Linked DNA regions of Homo sapiens. The protein of the gene in region 2 interacts with the protein of the main gene of each other region in a biochemical or structural test. Each region holds a gene or a part of one and is shown on either strand. Other genes may lie near its edges.

Region 1 (8,067 bases), on a different chromosome or scaffold from region 2:
ATCACACCACTGCACTCCAGCCTGGGCGACAGAGCGAGACTCCGTCTCAAAAAAAAAAAAAGAATAAACATGAGTTTAATAGGCAAAAAAAGACACAGGAGAAATAAAGCAGTCCGGGCCAGTGGAACTGCATCTGTGAGCACCCTGAGTCATAAAGGGGTTGTCATATCAGAAGATAGGAAGTTGGGCAGGGCACAGTGGCTCACACCTGTAATCCCAGCACTTTCAGAGGCCAAGGCAGGAGGATTGCTTCGGTCCAAGAGTTCGAGACCAGCCTTAGCAACATAATAAGAAACCTATCTCTACAAAAAATACAAAACTTAGCTGAGCACAGTGGCTCGTGCCTGCAGCCCCAGCTACTCAGGGGGCTGAGGGGAAAAGATCCCTTGAGCCCCAGGAGGTTGAGGCTGCAGTGAGCCATGATTGTACCACTGTACTCCAGCCTGGGGAACACAGTGAGACCCTATCTCCAAAAAAAAAAAAAAAAAAAAAGAAAGAAAAAGTTCGGTGGGACACAAAGGCAGGACTGGTGCTAGAAGAAGAGTGGGGCCAGCTCAGAGGGGTTGAGGGTGCCATGCTAGTGAGTTTGGATTTTAACTTGTAAGCAGTGAGATGCCAAAAATGGTTTTTAAGTAGAGGACTGATAAGACCAAGAAGGTTTTTAGAGTAACAACTCTGGCCTCAGAGAGGACAAGCTGAAGTGTGGGAAAATTTATTCCTCCCTCTGTCCCTACTCCCAGACTCAGGACAGGGCTCAGCACGTAGAGGAGTCTATGACATTAATTTTTTTTTTTTTTTTTGAGATGGAGTTTTGCTCTTGTTGCCCAGGCTGGAGTGCAATGGCGTGATCTTGGCTCACTGCAACCTCTGTCTCCCAGGTTCAAACGATTCTCATGCCTCAGCCTCCCGAGTAGCTGGGATAACAGGCTGGGATTACAGGCATGCCCCACCATGCCCAGCTAATTTTTGTATTATTAGTAGAGATGGGGTTTCACCATGTCGGCCAGGCTGGTCTCTAACTCCCAATCTCAGGTGATCCGCCCGCCTCGGCCTCCCAAAATGCTGGGATTACAGGCGTGAGGACATTGAATTTTTTTTTCCAAGGACAGATCAAGAAAGACCCTTACCTGCAGAGGCAGGTCAGTGGGGTCTCACCTGATCTCCCAAGGCTCCTTTCCATTCTAGGATTCACTTCTAGAATCTTAGAGCCAGCAGTATCACTTCATTCAAGACCACAAGAGACTCCAGAGTCACACAGACCTGGGTTGAATTCCAGCTCTGCCTTACTGCCTTACTGGCTGAATAAAAGCTACTTAACATTTCCTTTTGAGACAAGAGTCTTGCTCTCTCCCCCAAGCTGGAGTGCAGTGGCACAATCTCAGCTCACTGCAACCTCCACCTCCCAGGTTCAAGCAATTCTCCTGCCTCAGTCTCCCAAGTAGCTGGACCATGCCAGGCTAATTTTTGTATTTTTAGTAGAGACAGCGTTTCACCATGTTGGCCAGGCTAGTCTCGAACTCCTGACCTCAGGTGGTCTGCCCTCCTCGGCCTCCCAAAGTGCTGGGATTACAGGCGTGAGCCACTGTGCCCAGTTAACATTTCTAAGCCTCAGTTTCATCTGTGAAATGGGAATAATAATAATAAAGGAATCTCAGGGGAGTATTGTGAAGGTTAAATGAGACAATGTATGCAAAGTACTTAGCACAGTGCCTGGTACATAGTGTTGCACAGTATCCAGTCCCCTACCCCCTCCCCTCACCAAATTCATGTCCACCTAGAATCTGTGAATGTGACCTTACTTGGAAACAGGGTCTTTGCAGATGTAATCAAGTTAAAATGAGATCATACTGGATTGGGGTGAAACCTAAGTCCAATATGACTGGTGTCCTTAGAAGAGGAAAATTTGGACAGAGACAGAGACACATGGAGGAGAATGCTGTGTGAAGACAGAGGCAGAGATTAAAGTGATGCATCTACAAGGAATGCCAAAGATTGTCAAAAGCCACCAGAATCTAGGAGAGAGATGTGGAACAGATTCTTCCTTAGAACCTCAGAAGGACATGGCCCTGCCGACACTAATTTTACAACTTTTGGCCTCCAGAGCTGAGAGAGAATGTATTTCTTTTTTTGTTTGTTTTTTGTTTTTTGAGACAGAGTTTCCCTCTTGTCACCGAGGCTGGAGTGCAATGGCACGATCTCCTCTCACTGCAACCTCCGCCTCCTGGGTTCAAGCAATTCTCCAGCCTCAGCCTCCCCAGTAGCTGGGATTACAGGTGCGCCACCACTACGCCCGGCTAATTTTTGTATTTTTTTTTTTTTTTGAGACGGAGTTTCGCTCTTGTTGCCTAGTCTGGGTTGCAATGGTGCAATATCGGCTCACTGCATCCTCCGGCTCTTGGGTTCAAGCGATTCTCCTGCCTCAGCCTCCCTAGTAGCTGGGATTACAGGCATGTGCCACCACGCCTGGCTAATTTTTGTATTTTTAGTAGAGACAGGGTTTCACTATGTTGGTCAGGCTGGTCTTGAACTCCTGACCTCAGGTGATCCACCCGCCTCGGCCTCCCAAAGTGCTGGGATTACAGGTGTGAGCCACCATGCCCAGCCCAATTTTTGTATTTTTAGTAGAGACAGTGTTTTACCATGTTGGCCACGCTGCTCTCAAACTCCTGACCTCAGGTGATCCACCTGCCTCAGCCTCCCAAAGTGCTGGGATTACAGGTGTGAGCCACCGCACCCAGCCTATTTCTATTGTTTTAAGCCACCCAATTTGTAATAATTTGTTTTGTTTTGTTTTCTTGAGACAAGGTCTCGTTCTGTCACCCAGGCTGGAGTGCAGTGGTACGATCATGGCCCACTGCAGCCTTGAACTCCTGGACTCAAGCGATCCTCCGCCTCAGCCTCCCGTGTGGCTGGAAGTACAGGGGCACATGCCCCCACATCCAGCTAATTTTTTATTTTTTATTTTTTTGTAGAGACAGGGTCTCTGTATGTTGCCCAGGCTGGTGTCAAACTCCTGCCCTCAAGCAATTCTCCCACCTCAGCTTCCCAAAGCATTAGGATTACAGGTGTGAGCCAGCATGCCGGGCTTATTTGTAGTAGTTTATTATGGCTGCCCTAGGAAACTAACACAAAGTAACTGCTCTATAAAATAAATGTCAGCTGCTATAACTATTAGATCAATTAGAAAGGCTCTGGCAAATGCCTGACAGAGCAAAGCTGGCTAGAAGAGCCCAAAATTCCGGACAAGAAAAGGGCAAGGGGGCCGGGCGCGGTGGCTCACATCTGTAATCCCAGCACTTTGGGAGGCCGAGGCGGGTGGATCACGAGGTCAGGAGATCGAGACCATCCTGGCTAACATGGTGAAACCCCATCTCTACTAAAAATACAAAAAATTAGCCAGGCGTGGTGGCGGGAGCCTGTAGTCCCAGCTACTCGGGAGGCTGAGGCAGGAGAATGGCGTGAATCCAGGAGATGGAACTTGCAGTGAGCCAAGATCGCGCCACTGCACTCCAGCCTGGGCGACAGAGCAAGATTCCATCTCAAAAGAAAAAGGGCAAGGGAAGGACTGTGCCAAACAGCTTTTGAAGACCACAGCCTCACATCCTAGCTCCAACTTTTCCCCATACCCCTGCCATACCAGACGTGGGTACATTTCTACAAAATCATGGATAATTCCTGCTGCCATCTCATACCTGTGAACCCTGAGCAGCGTTTCACCAAACAGCCCAAGGTGAACTCAACACCCTCCTTTCCCAGATTGCTTGTAATAGACCCATTGTCTTAGGCATATTTGTTTGAAAGGCAGTGGATAAATCATAGCAGTTGGTCTCAGCATACTCCTTAACCTGTTCAGGCTTCATTTTCCCATCTATGAACTGATAACGTTAGACCCTAAGGTCCTTTTCAGCTCTAATGTGAAATTGGTGCATTTGTTCATTCACTCGTTCACTCATTCACTCACTAATACATTCAAATGCTGGGTGCTTCTGCTGTGTCAGGCCCTTCAGGAGTGAATGAGAGCCTCATGGAGCTCTCGTGCTAACACAAGAGACAGCCGATAAAACAATGAATTCACAAGGAATTATTTCATGACAGTTGTGGTTAGGTGCTACCAGCGCTACCAGGTACTGAGTGCCAAAACAGCAACTAACAGAAGCCCTCGCGAGGTCCTGGGGATAGGGGTGGGTGGTCAAAGAAGGCTGCTTTAAGGAAACGACATCCCATCTAAGAACTAAAGAAGTAGGAGTTAGGCAAAAGGTGGGAACTCCCCATTAAATTTTCCTTCCTCTCCCAGGATTTTCAGGACTTAGAAAATCCTGTTTCTTGCTGCTCTAAATGTCAAGTTACCAGCTTCCAACCACCTTCCCTGTGGGTCCCACAATTATAATCATTCCTGAAAGGGAGACTGAGCCCATAGTGTGTCTTCCCAGAAGCATTTACTATGAACCAACTGCACAAGTACACAGAGGTAGGAAAGAAGCAATGCAGAATAACATAGCTCCTTCCCTTGGAGTTCACAGTCTGAGAGGAGAGACACAGATGGGGACAAATCGTCACAGAGCTGAGTGATAAGGATTATTAAGGAGATATTTAGAATACCGCATAAGGGCCGGGTGCAGTGGCTCACGCCTGTAATCCCAGCACTTTGGGAGGCTGAGGCGGGTGGATCACCTGAGGTCAGGAGTTCAAGTCCAGCCTGGCCAACATGGTGAAACACCGTCTCTACTAAAAATACAAAAAAATTAGCCAAGCATGGTGGCATGCGCCTGTAATCCCAGCTACTCAGGAGGCTGAGGCAGGAGAATTGCTTGAACCCGGGAGGTGGAGGTTGCAGTGAGCCGAGATCGTACCATTGCACTCCAGCCTGGGCAACAAGAGAGAGACTCCATCTCAAAAAAAAAAAAAAAAAAAAAAAAAAAGTAGAATACTGCATAAGTGCAGAGGAAAGAATAATTCCTCTTCTGTGGTCCTCAACTTCCATGCCTATAAAATGGGGAAAACCTACTCAGCTTCTCATTACTTAAATGAGGCCTAAAATGAGGTGTGAAAAGTGCTTGTATCTCTTTAGAGGTGACCTATCACCAGAAGTACTGAGAAACATCTAAACGCATAGTTAACCCCAAACATTTGCTCATCAATCTCTTCTCCCAAAAAACCATAAGACCTGTCCATAACTAGAGAGCTGTGTTTCCAGTTCTCTTTCATCCCTCTGAACAGTTTAGAGCAGAGGGAGAAAGCAGAGAAAGCACCAAACACCAGTTTCCAGGTAGGATGTGGTGGATGCTCGCTGTGTATGTTCACAGGATCTTTCACCATCCAGAGCATCCCACTGTGCACACTCCCAAACTTTCATGGACATACTGTGTACTTCCTTAAGTCTCTCCCTCTTCTGGTGTTCTCTCGGCTTGCTGTTTATTGCTTTATAACCCGAGATTGCTAAGCTGCGCTGAACTCTGCTCAGGACTGTCTTTTAGTCATGCTGCCATTCAATCAGGACCAAGGGCAGTGGGCCCAGCTGGGCCCAACTCAGGGACACCAGCCCCTCCCAATCCCCTGCCCCACCCGAGCCATGCTGAAGTCACTTGTTACCCCATCAAGTGTCTGTGGACTTTTCCCCTTTTGCCCAGGATCCCAGAACCTCCCGCTTTTTGCCCTAAGAAAAAGGAATTCTCAACATTCCAAGTTGGTAAGCAGAGAAACAACTTTCATAGGAATCTCTGGGGAGTCTGAAGAACTAGAGAATGTATTTGGTCTATACCAACCAAAGGTAAATCCTGCCTGAGGGCAGTCTGGATGGGCTGTCCAGGTCCCTCCCAGGATATGGAAGCCTTCCCTTCTGCCTCACCCCCTGGGATCCCCTACCCAACTAGCCATCATGGAGTTGCGGGTGGCACCTGCACCACATCTAAGGCTACGCCTACATTCATTACCTCCTCAGTGTTCTCGCCTCCACCATCCTTGCCCGAGCTGCTAGGCTTGGCTGTGCATTTGGCAACCTTGGGGGGCTCCTGAAAGGAAAAGATGAAAGTAAAGTTAGCAGATGCCAGGAGAAGGGAGAGGTCTTATCTGGCTCCCTTAGATCTTTGTTGCAAATATCCTCTGTCCAGTTGAATCAATCAATTAGAATCTACCTTGTGCGGAGCTGGGGTGGGTGGAGGGATCTACGCAGAAGGAGATTCAGCCCCTCCAAAGAGTTTAGAATCTGGTTAGGAAGTCACCCCAAACACACACTAATTCAGCGTGAGAATGCTCCATCTTTCACCTCATCAGGCTGGTGCAGAGGTTGGGCCTGGGAGGGCCTTTGCTCAGGTCAGAACCAGGGTGAGGAGGCTTAAAGAAAAAGCATCAGGGAACAGCTGCTCACTGGTTTCTGGCTAAAGTGGTCAAAGGTGTGCCGGAGGCTTTCATGCTGGAGTGCAGGGAGTCACCACTCTCCCCTCACAGCCACCTGGAAAGACTGGGAGGCAATTTTTGGATGTCACAAATAGCGCACAGACAAGAGGGTGCTACTCAGCATTTAATCAGTAAGGCCCAGGAATGCTAACAGGTACAGAACTGTCCCACTCAAAATGCCAAGAGCACCTCAGTTGACAAGCACTAAGACAGGGATGGGGGTAAAACCCTGAACTGTTACAAAGAGTGAGCACTAGTCTGAAGTCTCCTTTGGGAACCTGGCAGCTGGCTCAGAGCCCTGGCCTGCCCAGCATCTCTTCCTATGCTTCGAGCCAAAAAAAGCAACTGCACAGGGACAGGATAGGGAAAATGTGAAAAAGACTTGGGGATTTAGGTCTGACTGCAAGCTCAACACAAATCATCCATGTGCAGCTCATGTGACCTTCCATCTTGTTAAAAGACCTGTGCAGACTGCTTGGCACTGACAGGGCTATCCTGGAGGATCTGGTTCAGTCATGAGCATCAGGCTTGGGAGGGGCCATGACAAATCCTAGTGTTTCTTAGAGGGAAATGCAACCCATACTGGGAGTGGATTCAAAGGCATGTCCCAAGACCAACAGCTGCAGGAACTGGGATAGTTAACAATGGAAGGGAGGAGTCATGAGGGATGGAGAAGCAAGATGGATCTTAAACAAATGAAGATGCAACTTGGATGCCTTGGATGCAACTTGTCCATATGGACCAGAGGCACGAGAGCAATGGGCTGAAGTTGCAAGCCACCTGAAGCTCCAAACAAGGAAGAATTTTATCATGGAGCAATTGCACTAAAACTGGCCACCTAGTGAAGCCGAAAGCTCCCCAACCCCTGAGAACATTCAAGCAGGGGCTTGGTGACCTCCTGTAAGGCATGTTGCAAAAGAAATTCAAGCCTTTAATGAGGACTGGAGGATCTTGGAAATCACTTCCAGCTCTGAGATTGTGCAATTCAATAGCAGCCAAGCCCCTTCAGTGAGAAGTGTTAAATCGAGTTATTGTGACTATGGGGGCAAAAGGATTTCAGGGAGAAGAGAGCTCTGTGTGGGCTGGAGTAGGGGGAAGGCTTCTTGGAGGTGGGGAGGAAGAAAGGTGTGGTGTAGAGCAGCTCCATGCAGTAGGGGGAAGGAGTTCCTTCTTTGGCCTGAGCACGCTCCTGCTGTATACTAACCCAGCTGGCCACACTGACCCTTATCAGTGGCTGAGAGCATGGGGTGGAGAGAAATAGGCCGGGGGCAGGGTGCAGGCAGGACACAACATTGAGGTGTCTGCACACACCCCAGACATGAACCCCTTGAACAAAGCTGACCCATCTTCATACATCTCCAATCTATTAGACCATAAGCTGCTTATTCTTTTTTGTACCCCTCCACCCACCCTACAGCACTCAGCATGATGCCTCAGACGTATCTTTCAAAGAATGAGCCTAAGAGAGATCCAGCTGCCTTAGTGTGTGGGTGTGAGTGGGCATGGAGGAACCAGGCCTACCACCCTTGCTCCCTGGCTCCTGCAGAACAGGTGAAGCACACACATTTCAGCCCAGCTCAGTAGTCAAATGCTGTGTAGCACAGAGGTTAAAAGAACATGTTTGGACTCAGCCCTGTGTTTTGGGCCCAACTCTTACTGGCTGTGTAATCACAG
Region 2 (2,578 bases):
CTCCTGCAGCATGAAACCCCTCACCTCCCGCTCCTGCAGCAGAAACAAAATACTTGGTTCTGTTTATTGTCTCCCTTTCTCATTAGACCTGAGCTCTGGGATACTGTGGGCTTAAGTACTTCTGAAAATTTGTATGGCATCTGCTGGGTGAATTTTCCTAGGGTGCTGGGCTGGTTGTTAGGACAGTCTGGGTGACTGGCCTCATTCATGGCAGGGGCAGCAGGTGGAGAGTGGTCCGGGAAGGATTTGAGGAGCTGCACGGAGTCAGGCCCAGCCTCTGGCCTCCTGATTGCCACCTTTCTCAGGATCTTGGATACTAATTAAGAAACTCTTGACTGCTGGAGGCTGTGATTGACCCACTGAGAGCTTTTAGGCATGTGGATGTGAGTCAGCCAGGATTGATGGAGCATTGACTGCTAATTAGACTCCTCTGGGAAGGTAGAGGCGGGCAACACATAATGCCTTCGCTGTGGGAGCTTCATCAAGGGGATGATTCTTGGACGGACATTTTTCCTCCCTCTTTCCACAGGGGCATGCTAGCCCTGTCATTCTAGGAGTTTATTATCCTTCAGACACAGCTACTTATGTTTTTAATTCCCTCACAGGATGAAGACATGAAGAGAAAGTTTCAAGATCTTCTGTCTGAGGAAAATGAATCCACAGCTCTACCCCAGGTTCTAGCCCAGGTATTCGTATTCCTGATGATCACTAAATGTAGTCTGGGCTTAAGGAGCTGATAAGCAAAGATGATGAAATTCAAGATTTTCCTGAGTAGCAATTGCTTAACATTGTTTCAGTTATAATGTAGTAGAAACTCTGTTTTAACTTGATTCGCTCCAGCACCCTTAGATTTAAAAATGCAGGATATGTTTAATATCTAACACATAATAGACCGATAAGCACAGCTAGGGATTGTCATCCAAAAGGTCACCTGCAAGGCAATTTCGAAAGACTCTATTAGAGGCTCAAATATAAATTTGTTGAACAAATTAAAATTTGGGTCAGTAGTTGATTCCTTGATTACAATTTTATTCTTTAAAGTTCTTTGTGAGTATAAGTTAATTCCAGTCCTGCTTTTTTGTTGTTGTTGTTGTTGTTGAATGGTAGCTGTCCTTTTTCCCACTGTTTCCTCCCCCCAATTTTTTTTTTCTTGAGACAGAGTCTTGGTTTGTCACTCAGGCCGGAGTGCAGTGGTGCAATCTCAGCTCACTGCAACCTCTGCCTCCTGGGTTCAAGCAGTTCTCCTGCCTCAGTCTCCCGAGTATCTGGGATTACAGGTGTCCGCCACTGTGCCCAGCTAATTTTTGAATTTTTAGGTGAGATGGGGTTTTGCCATGTTGGTCAGGCTTGTCTCGAACTTTTGACCTGAAGCGACCTGCCCACCTCGGCTTTCCAAAGTGCTGGGATTACAGCTGTGAGTCACCGCACCCAGCCTTCCTCCCAATTTTATATATGGGAAAACAACTAAGGCACAAAGGTTGTCTTCCCGCAAAAGACCAAGACTTGGGGCTTCAACTGAGAGGTATTATAGTCCTTTTAAACTTGATATTTAGAAGAGGACGATCAAGAGGAAGTTGGTTATGCTACTTGCTTTCAGTATACATCGTTCAGAGGTCAGAAGCCATAAGGGAGAGAAATATCTATTAGATAAGCATGTCTGAGTTGGGGGCTGTGGTGAGGACTCAGTTGTCAATGATGACAACCAGTAATTTTTGGTTCTAGAATTTCACATCAAATGCCCCCACTTTACTGGAAGCATATTGAGGAACTTTGATAATCTTAAAGAAGCCAGTGATTTTCTTTTGAACATTTCTCCATTTTCCTTTATTTTCAGCCTTCTACTAGTCGAAAGCGGCCCCGTGAAGGGGAAGCCGAGGGTGCCGAGACCACAAAGCGCCCAGCTGTGTGTGCTGCTGTGTTGTGAACTCCGTGGTTTGAACACGAAAGAAATGTACCTTCTTTCACTCTGTCATCTTTCTTTTCTTTGAGTCTGTTTTTTTATAGTTTGTATTTTAATTATGGGAATAATTGCTTTTTCACAGTCACTGATGTACAATTAAAAACCTGATGGAACCTGGGCTTTGTGCTTCTGCTTGATAATCGGTTCTTTAGTTGAATGGCTTTATTATTTATTTATTTGAGATGGAGTCTCACTCTGTTGCCCAGCCTGAATGAAGTGCAGTGGTGCAGGCTTGGCTCACTGCAACCTCTGCTTCCCAGGTTCAAGCGATTCTTGTGCCTCAGCCTCCTGAGTAGCTGGGATTACAGGTATGCACCACCATGCCTGTTAATTTTTATATATTTTGTAGAGACAGGGTTTTGCCATGTTGGCCAGCCTGGTCTTGAACTTCTGACCTCAGGTGATCTGTCTGCCTCAGTCTCTTAAAGTGCTGGGATTACACGCATGAGCCACTGAGCCTAGCCTGAATGGCTTTTTTATATTTAAAGTTGTGTGCCTTTCATCTGGAGCTACACCTTGGCTATCACTAGGCAGGTTTCCCAGGATGTCACCCTGGTCTCAGCCTGTGAGAGCTGAATACAAATTCTAAGGGCCCCTTGGAAAGTTCCAGGGAAGGGA
Region 3 (5,938 bases), on a different chromosome or scaffold from region 2:
GGGGAAATGCTCCATAACACTGGTATGGGCAAAGATTTCTTGGATATAACCCCAAGAACACAGACAACAAAAAATACATGGCGCTGCATCAAACTAAAAAGCTTCTGCATAGTGAAGTGAATGATAGAATGAAGAGACAACCCATGAATTCGAAGAAAATATTTATAAATCATACATCTGATAAGGGGCTAATATCCAAAATACATAAGGTACTGAAGCCACTAATAAGAAAATGAACTCAATTAAAACATGGGCAAAGGATGTAAACAGATATTCCTAAAAAAGACACAAATGGCCAACAAATATATGAAAAGATGCTCATCATCACTAATCAGAAAAATGCAAATTAACACAAGGTATCACCTTACACCTGTTAGAATTACTATTATCAAAATGATAAAAGTGTTGACAGGGTGTAGAAAAAAGGGAACACTTGTGCACTGACGTTGGGAATGTAAATTAAAACAGCCAATATTAAAATCAGCATGGAGACAGAAAACTAAAAATAGAATTACCATATGATCCAGCAATCCCACTTCTGGACATATAGCTAAAGGAACTGAAGTCAGTGTGTCAAAGAGGTATCTGTACCACCACGTTCACTGCAGCATTATTCACAACAGCTAAGATATGGAAGCAATCTTAATGTCCATCATCATATGAATGAAAACAAAATGTGGCATATATACTCAATGGAATACTATTCAGCCCTATAAAAGAAAGAAATCCTGTCACTTGTGACAGGAACCTGGAAGACATTATACTAAATGAAATAACCCAGGCACAAAAAGGTAAATACTATGTGATCTCAGCTATCTGTGCAATCTAAAAAAAAGGTGAATTCATAGAAGTAGAATGGTGGTTACCAGAGGCTGGGAGAGAGAAGTGGATGGGAAAAGGGGAGATGCTGATCAAAGGGTACAAAATATCAGTTAGACAAGAGGAATAAACTTTACTGATCTATTACACAGAATGGTGAGTATAATAAATAATGCATTGTACATTTCAAAAATATTAAGAGTAGATTTTAAGTGGTTTTTTTACCACAAAAAATGGTATGAGGCAATAAATTTATTACATTGATTTAATCATTCTACACTGTAAACATATATCAAAACATCACATTGTACTCCATATATATAATATACACAATTATCAATTAAATTTTAATAACACAAAGGACAAAAGAAAAAGTGGCATAGTTTTGAACAACTCCCATTTAAAATTAATTCATTTCAAATTAAACTATTCAACTAGTGAATACCTATTGCCAGGCACTTATAAAATAATGTTGGCTCTTTAGTACTTAGTAAATTTATTTTGATGCATGACCAAAATAAAAGGGAAATTTAACATGTATATCATATGAAAATAGGTTTTAGTGAAGAAATAAAAACTGAGTTTGATTTTAAAATCCATGACACTATAAACAAACTACTACTTCCAACATAAGCTAAAGTTAATTCATAAAGAGTTCTATGTACTGGTTAAGAAGACCCCAGAAACTAAGAAATGAACAACTTGATATACACTCATTTTTTTTTTATACATACATCTTTAATGATAAAAGAAGCTGAGATGCTATGCACCAAAAAATTCGTAAGGGTATTGTTATTTTACTTTTTTCAAAAATAATCCAAATAAACTATAGATACAAATTCTGCGGCAGGGCAACCTAACTTATTTCAGGGACAGATAATTCTAGTGTACTTAAGATCTGTCTAAGTATTTAACATTCCTGTAAGCATTATAAAAAAGAATAGGAAAAGAATGAAGTTGTCTGTTAAAATGTTAACAGTAGTTCTCTCTGAAAGAAGGGATTGTTGAGAGTTTTTTACCTTCTTTCTTATAGAGGTATAACCTATACTTATGAAGTCAGAGAAAGAAAAAATATTTAAGGGTAAAGTTATGTATTTTAAGTTTTGCATACTGAATGGTAAGGGATGTAGATTTTATTCTTATTGTGAATGAGAAGTGTTGAAGGATTTTAATCATCGAGTTGACGTGTCATGAACAAATACTTGAAGCAACCCTGGGTACCGAAGCCTAGAGACTTTGAGTACATTTGAAAATTGCTTTAAGTGCATGACTAGACAGCATAAACGAGTGATTGCATATGTACTCTGCATTATTTTGGACATGTTTGGATCCTAAGTTAAAGAAACAATCAGATTGTGAAATAAGACTTTCTAACTAGAGTCACCTAAAAAAATGAAAGGTTAATCTATCAAATCATGAGCGCTTCAATGATATGGATGACTAGCTGTGAGGGGTATTTTAGCAAAATAGAAGTTTAGATCAAAAGCAATGTGGTAAAAGTGGGTTTGGAGTCAAACTTGGATCTGATTCCCAACTCCAACATATAGTGTCTGTTATTTACCCCCAATGTGTCATTTTAACCTCTAAACCTCAGCTTTCTTGTCTATGAGGACAACACTTACCCCACAGAATCATTGTAGTAATTAATGCTAATGCATGACCCAGCACAGATGTTGAAAACAGAAGAGCCTTATTATTATATACTCACTCCTATTTAAAGATCCAATGATTCAATGATTAAAAACAATAACATGATTGGTTTGGCAGAATAATACCAAACATAAAAAGTAATACATCTGGACCAAGCACAGTGGCTCATGCCTGTAATCCTAGCCCTTGGAAGGCCGAGGTAGGAGAAATGCTTGAGCCCAGGAGTTCAAGACCAGCCTGGACTTTGTTTCTACAAAACAATTAAAAATTAGCTGGGCATGGTGGCACACACCTGTAGTCCCAGCTACTCAGGAGGCTGAGGTGGAAGGATCAGTTCAGCCCAGGAAGTCAAGGCTGCAGTGAGCTACGATCACTTCACTACACTCTAGCCTAAATGACAGAGCAAAACCACTTCAAAAAAAAGTATTAGATCTGGAAAACTAGTCTTTACTTATCTGTATACTAATTGGTAATACCCAGGAACATCCTTTCCCAAATGAAGATCAGCACTGCTGCTCTGGCCAGGCCAAGGAAACAGATGAAGGGAAAGAACATAAGAAGAGTGGAATACAGAAGACAAGAAGGTGGGATAAAATAAAGATCTGAGTCCCAAACTGCTGCCTTTATCTAGGTGAATAAATTTCAACAAAAGAAGAAATAAATGTGCCAGAACTCTTAGGCTTTCTAGTTAAAAGGCTAACTTCCTTATTCAAAGAAGATTCAAATAGCTCAAAGTTGGAAATACAACTGGTGCTCAATAGGTACTTATCAACTGATAAATGTACATTTTACATCCTAGCCTAATGGTAAAGCTATTACGGAGATAACAGTGTCAAAGTCGGCTGGATCATCAAACATATTTGTTAACTTTGTTCCTGAAGTAAGAGGTATATTTAATTCCACTACATGAGCCCAAAAAAGTATTATGAAATCAGAGATCTTGCCAGGAATATCCCATGCCCTTCCCACTCATCCATCCCCTATTTTCACACGCTTAGGGAAGAAATATTCTATTCATTTACAATAAGACATCCACTCCTTGCATAAAGAAAAATGAGTACATTGATCAAATATGATGAACAATAGAATGTACTGCTGTGAGGACAAGGACTTTTATCTTTATTGTTCACTGTTGTCTCTACAGCATCTAGAAACATATCTGCCACATAGCAGTTGCTCAATAAATACTTGCTAAATGAAGGAATGAATGACTCTTTGAAGAAATAATTTTGGGCAACCTAAAAAAAACTGTTTTCAATGTTGATGTTTTTATTAAGGCTTTGGAAGAGTCTTATTATTTTACATAATAATTTTCCCAACTACTTTTATGGAATACCTCAAAAGAAAGAAAATTTCTTTTACATTATAGAACTGATGATACTGCCCTAATTGAGCCAAACATAGAAAACTTTGGAAAAAACTTTCTATAAAACAGTTTCAATATAATTTTATTAGCAGTTATTACATCAAAATTCACATTTAGAGGATCCAGAGGACTGTCTTAGAAAATTCTAAAGCATATTTAATTAGGTTTTAACAGTAAGGGAGAACTTAATATAACACAGCCCTTAAAAAGTCAAGACTACTACTGAAAATTAAGTGCAGTTCTATCAAGAACTAGAAATGAACTGCACGCGTAGTGTCACTTAAAGCAAAGCTTCATGAAAATATAATACACTTCTATGAATGTATCAGTGGCAAACATCATTGGCTTCCAAAAAACTGACACTAAAGGAATTTCCAATCAAAACACAAGCACAGTGGCTTTCATTCAATATAGAGCTATGATAAGTCTATCAAGAGACCCTGAATCCTTACGTACTTGTAATATGATTTTATGCTGTGACACTAGTACAAAACACATCAACTCTAATGCATAGATGACGACACATGATAACACGATACCAAGGAAAGCCTTTTTCTATATCAGAAAATGCCAAGTTCTCCAGTACTGTGTAGGCTCGTCATTGCTGATCCAGTGAAATTCTACGTCCTCCAGCTTGAGCAGTATTATAGGATTCACAAATCTTACATTTCATGCCTAATATATGAAACTGAACAGTGGATCGTCCATTACAGTCATTGCAGAGAATCTGAAAAGAGATTAATTCAAATTAAGTATTTTAAACCTTATAAATACAAGTAGCATTGTCTACTCATAATCCCTTGAAAATCATATTAAAGATGTGAAAATACATACATAAGTCTAAAAATTTCCAAAAGTAGAAATTTCTTCTTATTTTTTCACTGAAAACTCTAAAAAGCTATTAAGGTGGCTCTGAATTCAGAAAATGAAAAGGCAGATTTGAGCAAAAAAAAAGCTTATTTTAAAATAGTTTCCAAATATTAAATAGTATAAATAGTACAAGCAAGAAAATTAACCTAGGCATAATCAGATGAATACCTGATACTTATAATTCAAAATAACAACATGATTTCATTATTTTTCAGTCAGAAATGTATCTCAATTAATAAAACCAAAATTTTTACACAAATAATATTTTTGCTTATTTTTTAGGTTTAGTATACTGTTCCCTGTCTTCTCTGCCTTAGGAATGAATTAAATTCCAAAAAGAGTGTTCCTAAAATTGAGTAAACAGAGAGGCTCTTCGCTCATCCCTACAATAACAATAAGATGCCGTTTAAGAATTAATTTCTTCTAGTGCTAAGTAAGAACCTGAAAAATAACAAAGGTGTTAACCTGAAAATCAATACATTACTATGCAAGAAAAGCACTAGTTTTTGAATAGTCACACTATAATAAGCAGAAAATTTCCAAATTTGCTCTAAATTATAATTTGGAAAATAATTATTTAAAAAATATGATCTAAATGGAGAAAGTGGATTAGTGGTTGCCTAGGCCTGGGGCGTTAGGGAATGACTGCTAATGGGTATGAGTGTTTCCTTTTTGGGATGATAAAAATGTTCTAAAATTGTGGTGATGTTTGCATAACTACATGAATATTTTAAAAAGCACCAAATTGTACAATTTAAATGAATGAACTATATAATATGTGAATTGTATCTTAATGAAGCCATTATTTCCAAAAATTATCTACATGGAACATAGCACACTTCGGCCTCTAGTCAATCACATGATTATCGGTTAGTATTCCAAAAGTGATTTTTCATTGCCCTAACAATTATCCACATGAATTATGAAACACTCCAGTGTAAATAAAACAAAAAATAATTTTCATTTGGCTTTGCTACGTGGTTTTTATCCTCGTATGCTGAAGTATCTGAAGATGTTCAGAAAATGTGTAATATAACCAAAAATTATCTAGCCAGAATACTAGGCTTTCCCATTCTAATCTAAAACTCAATACCATGTATGGCTGAGAAGAGACAGCAACACATCTTAATTAAACGAAAAAAGATGATCACTCTCCATAAGCCAAAAGGCACAGAAACAACCTTTTATGCTTTAGGTTGCAAGCTAATTGCAACCAAATAAAGAAAGTCAAGA
Region 4 (5,011 bases), on a different chromosome or scaffold from region 2:
TTAAATCTGCTTTCATGTAAGCACATAATTAGGAAGTGAACGATTTTACCTTTTCAGAGAGAAAAACCTTTATTAGCTGTAACCTGTCAAAATCTACTCTGGTTGCTCTTCAGTAAAAGAAATATACCTAAACCTTCTACAGAATAGACATTTAGACATAACCTTCACTTTCTGGAAAGGCAGGCGCTTGCCTTTTCCTTCTGTTTTGTGTAGGATCATCATTTTTAACTGCGCTGTCCCCCAGCTGTCAGCAATACTAGCTGACCCTGGGTGAGTGTAGAGAATCTAGAAGGAACACCTTAACCTGATGGCCATGACAAGATGACTCTGCAATACCTACTACTTGAGAAAAACAAAGCATGAGCTATTGTTGTAAAAGAATTTTAGTGCTCTTCCTTTTGGTACACTGCTTTCATGATGACCTGGGAGTAGTGTGCATCCCCTGTGCTAGAGTTTTTAATATTAAAGCAGAAGTAAACATCAGTAGCAGATAACACTTTATTACAATAATGTCTGATTTCTTTCTCTTTTTTTGAGACAGAATCTTGTTCTGTCGCCCAGGCTGGAGTGCATCTTGGGTCATTGTGGGCTCAAGCGATTCTCTTGCCTCAGCCTCCCGAGTAGCTGGGATTGTAGACGCCCACCAGCACGCATGGCTAGTTTTTATATTTTTAGTAGAGACAGAGTTTCACCATGTTGGCCAGGCTGGTCTTGAACTCCTGACCTCAGGTGATCGGCCCGCCTCGGCCTCCCAAAATGCTGGGATTACAGGCGCGAGCCACCGCACCCAGCCAATAATACCTGATTTCTAACTGTGCCACAGGCTCCCTGCTCTTCACTAGAAGTGCTATTTATTATGGATTATGAAAAATTAGCTTCAAAGTAAATTAAACCCATCCTCTTAACATACAAGGATATGAAAGATGATGGAAAGATATCCTAGAACTTAGAATTTTATGCAAATATTCTGTAAAACATATTTTGGTAAAGGGCTAGAACACTCAACCTTGGCACACAATCTTCCTATTTTTAAATTAGACTTCGTCCCACAATTTGTCTTAAAAGTTTCTATAAATACACATATGTATGTAAAAAGGGGGGCAGACTTCTCCTGTATGCCTAAGCTTAGAGCTAAAAGAAGCAAAGATGACATAAGGCAAAATACAAACATAGACTTTATTAAATGCTGCTCAATCCCCCAATGAAGATCTTTCATTACAAAACAGTTTTCCACACAACTGCAAGTTAAGAGATTGGAATGGTACTCTGATAACAAAAGATGTGAGAAATACTTGACCAAGTAAAAACATACAAGACCTCTATATAGTCAACCTTTTCAGAGCTCTACAGAGGAAGCCTACTGCAGTTCCTTTAAATAAAGCCAGGCAGTGACAACTAGTGCTCTGTATCACCACACTGTGGGACTCAAAGCCTCCATCCCTGGGTCAGGAGGGACTAGGTGAAGGACAGGTTGTGAGGACTGGAAAGGCCCTGCCTTCAGCCTTTGAGAGGAAGAGGAGGAATGAATTGAGAGGCAAGCTGGGTAATTCACCTGAGCTGCCTCTACCCATCTGTTACCACTCTGGAGAATTGCAGAGGAAGGGGGATATTCATGAGGAACAATCTGAAGAATTTTGGTTTACTTTCCCAGCTTTTATTTATATTTTGTGCTTTAAAAAGCCTGGAGATTTAAGGTTTTGCCTAAATTCCAGAGTACAGTAATGTATTTATTGAGGGAGGGGTTAGGGCAGGTAATTCCCCCCATCATATTTCTGGGTGAGACAAAGAGAAGGGTAAGGATGATACCTTAGTTTTATTTTAGGAAGTATTTTTTCCTAGGATGTAACTAAGGTTTGCAGCAGTGTGAAAAGCACATTATAAAAGGGAAAAATATACAGAGCAGACTACCATATCTATGTGCAACACAATCAAAGAAGAATTCAAGTCATAATTCTTACCACTCCCATAATTATCTCACTCATATCATAGATGATAAAATTCATTCATTTCTGTGAAACTTCAGAAGTGACACAATAAATCCAATGATTAGACAAAGGTTACAATATACTATGGCCATGATACAGCACAGGGCTACGTTTAGTCCATATATTTTTCCATTTACAGTTGCCAGAAAAAATTGGCCTTTTAATTATATTATACTGATGAGGTTTGTTTTGTAATTTTTACATATTTCAAAAAAGCATACAAAACTCTGCCTATCCGGCAGAGGTGGGAGGCTTTTTTTTTATTCGGCACTTGTATTGCTGAGAATACTGTGCATGTTGTAAGCACTATTCTGTTTTTCTAGAGCTTTCTTTAGCTTTAGCTCCTCTAATTTTTTCCATAATTCTTCACGTTCCAATTCCTTCTTTTTCTCTCTGTAGATAAACCAAAATTTTTGTAATCAGAAATTATTTCAGAACCCAAAGAGAGGTGCTGTTTGACAGCTTACTGGAGAACACATTACTTACCCACATTTCACTTAAATCCCTCTGCTAAAGCTTTGGAGTCCACTTACCTGGAGCACCTAATTTCTTCTTGTCACTCTCCTAAATGTACTGAGTCTGTGCATCTCCTGTACCAGCTAGACGTTACTACTTGCTTTCTGTCCCCTACACATTATCACTACCATGACACTGTACTTTATAGTCAACAAAGTACTTACACGTCAATTTTCTCACGTAAACATCTTGCAGTTGTAGTAGTCTAATCAGTATTACAAAGGCTGAAGGGGCTGGCCACTAGGTCAGTAGGAAGCACTTCCTTCACCACACCAGACAGAAGCCACATCATTTTTGCCACTAACAGCCACATCTCTAGCCACTAACCAGTTTGTATCTTACTAGCTCCTCTTTTACATGTCAAATGAAAACTTTAGTTTCAGTAATCTTTCTCTAGAACAAAATGAAGGTCAAAATATTTCATATGTCGTTTCAACTAATTAATTTCAGTTCTAAGGAAAACATTTCTGAGTAACTTGAACCTGTCTATTCTGAAAGGCTCCATGAACATGTAAAACATAGGCTTATAATTCTGCAGTTATGAGTTAAAAGGACAAATCCTTTTAAAGGATTTGCTGATTTATGCAGGTAAGAAATGATGAGTATATTCTTAGTCATGTGAAATACATATTTTTCAAATACAAGTTTCCTATGATCCTAGTCATCTTATTTTCTTCCCATTGCTTCCTGAGGCTCAAAACATGTACTTAATTTCTATTCCTGCCTGAATGCTGCTATTTAAAGGAAATAATGCATTGAGTTAGTTATTAATGGGCTGGATGGCTTTGAAGAAAGGCTATCCATTTTCTACTTTAAGATAACCATAACTAGGAACTTGTCAAAATAGATAGCTTTTCTAAACAGAACAGGTAATATGCTTATTAGAAGTAAATGGTAACTGTTATCCTCAAATAATGGGTGGGCTCAGGTACACTGGTTACTAACCACTTAAGTTTAAGAAAGTGCTTCTTGAGTTTGAAATAAACATATGAGAAGAAAGTAACTCTTGAAAGATTATTTTATAGTAATTTATGAAATTCTCAAAAAGAGGTAATCACTAGGCCATGTTCCTAAAGGCTGATACGTGCTAACATTTATACTCTAAAATACATATTATTGCAAGGACAACATATTAATAGTACCCTAAGCCATATCATTATGTGACTTCCCTCTTCCCAAAGGAGAACTATGCTGACTTTAAAATACCACCTTCTGATAATCCACAGCGTAAGAATTACCTACTGCTAACAAAGAACACTTGAAAAGTAAAGCTCACTCTGGAAGCCCACGTGGACAAAAAGGATTTTCGTAAATGCATGGATAAAAAATCAAATTGTACAAATTGATATTTAAAATTCAGCATAAATTATATTTCATATGCAGATGCTAACAGACTGAGGAAATCTAAGGCTCAGAATGAGATAAACAGGATTTATGATCCACATTAAAATCATAATCTAACCATTTAGAGGAAGTAAATTATGTAACTACCCTCAAAAATAAATGCTACTGCTTTTTCTGCTTTAACAAATTTATAAAAATACTGGGGCTAGTTTATCTGGAAATGACTTATATGTTAAGAGACTTTCACATTGTAATGTTTACTATAAGGTAATTAACTTCTTAAATATGAAAATCTGAACTGAGAGAAGATACCTTCCTGAACTGAATCACATTCAACTAACATAAAATGTATAGATAATTTTGTAATTCAAAATATCAAATACCTCTGTCTTTCAGCTTTGTATGAGCTAGTAAGGTCATCGAAAAGCTTGCCATTCATTTCCATTAGGGTTTTCAGCACATTGTATACCAGTGCTACAATGGTCCTGAAATGAAAATGAGCCAGTCCTGAGTTATGATACTGCTAACAGAGAGGAAATGTAACACTATGGTCTCTAAAATGGGTTAAAGCTTGGCTGATTTCATTTAATCCATTTTAGAGATGATAAAACTGAGGCTCAAGAGGTTTGTAATATGCTCAAGGTCATACAGCAAGTGGTGGTAGAGACAGTCTAAGAAAACTTAAATCTTTTCCATTTTATCATGCTTACATTAAACTCTAGTTAAAAATGTTCACTATAGTTATCTTCATTTCTGCTTTACAGTCTCATGTCTGAAATCCTGAGTAACAACATTAAAAGAAGATGAAAAAGATCCAATTACCAAAACTTATGAAAAGTAGAAAGCCGGATAAGGATGTTAAAGAAGTTAGAATATATTACCCTTAGCACTTCGGCTTTCCCCTGGGACAGTGCCATTTATAGAGGGGAGACTATACACTGAGAGTAGACCAACACAACTCTGCATTAACGGAGTAGTTTGTGTATCCTCTGCAAATGTTCAGTTGGTCTCCCCAAGAGGGTTTGACCACAACCTCCAGGGAGATTTGCAATTTTAAATTGACATGAAGGCTGGGCACAGTGGTACATGCCTATAATCTCAGCACTTTGGGAGGCCAAGGTGAGATGATCACTTGAGCCCAGGAGTTTCAGTCCAGCCTGGGCAAT

The links.
Region 1: the proteins of CHEK2 (region 2) and PPP2R5D form a complex in vitro, tested with the Homo sapiens proteins (one study listed by BioGRID).
Region 3: of the proteins of CHEK2 (region 2) and RCHY1, one has a biochemical effect on the other in vitro, tested with the Homo sapiens proteins (one study listed by BioGRID).
Region 4: the proteins of CHEK2 (region 2) and PPP2R5A form a complex in vitro, tested with the Homo sapiens proteins (2 studies listed by BioGRID and IntAct, with this or other methods).

Annotation. Positions count from the first base shown.
Region 1 is NC_000006.12:42,987,552-42,995,618, reverse strand, and holds part of PPP2R5D (serine/threonine-protein phosphatase 2A 56 kDa regulatory subunit delta isoform), read right to left. Parts: intron 6,009-8,067; coding exon 5,931-6,008; intron 1-5,930. UniProt on the Homo sapiens protein: The B regulatory subunit might modulate substrate selectivity and catalytic activity, and might also direct the localization of the catalytic enzyme to a particular subcellular compartment.
Region 2 is NC_000022.11:28,687,243-28,689,820, reverse strand, and holds the end of CHEK2 (serine/threonine-protein kinase Chk2), read left to right. Parts: intron 1-605; coding exon 606-686; intron 687-1,834; coding exon 1,835-1,924; 3' UTR 1,925-2,078; downstream 2,079-2,578. UniProt on the Homo sapiens protein: Serine/threonine-protein kinase which is required for checkpoint-mediated cell cycle arrest, activation of DNA repair and apoptosis in response to the presence of DNA double-strand breaks.
Region 3 is NC_000004.12:75,478,105-75,484,042, forward strand, and holds the end of RCHY1 (RING finger and CHY zinc finger domain-containing protein 1), read right to left. Parts: intron 4,563-5,938; coding exon 4,434-4,562; 3' UTR 929-4,433; downstream 1-928. UniProt on the Homo sapiens protein: E3 ubiquitin-protein ligase that mediates ubiquitination of target proteins, including p53/TP53, TP73, HDAC1 and CDKN1B. Mediates ubiquitination and degradation of p53/TP53; preferentially acts on tetrameric p53/TP53.
Region 4 is NC_000001.11:212,358,005-212,363,015, reverse strand, and holds the end of PPP2R5A (serine/threonine-protein phosphatase 2A 56 kDa regulatory subunit alpha isoform), read right to left. Parts: intron 4,331-5,011; coding exon 4,229-4,330; intron 2,379-4,228; coding exon 2,246-2,378; 3' UTR 1,163-2,245; downstream 1-1,162. UniProt on the Homo sapiens protein: The B regulatory subunit might modulate substrate selectivity and catalytic activity, and might also direct the localization of the catalytic enzyme to a particular subcellular compartment.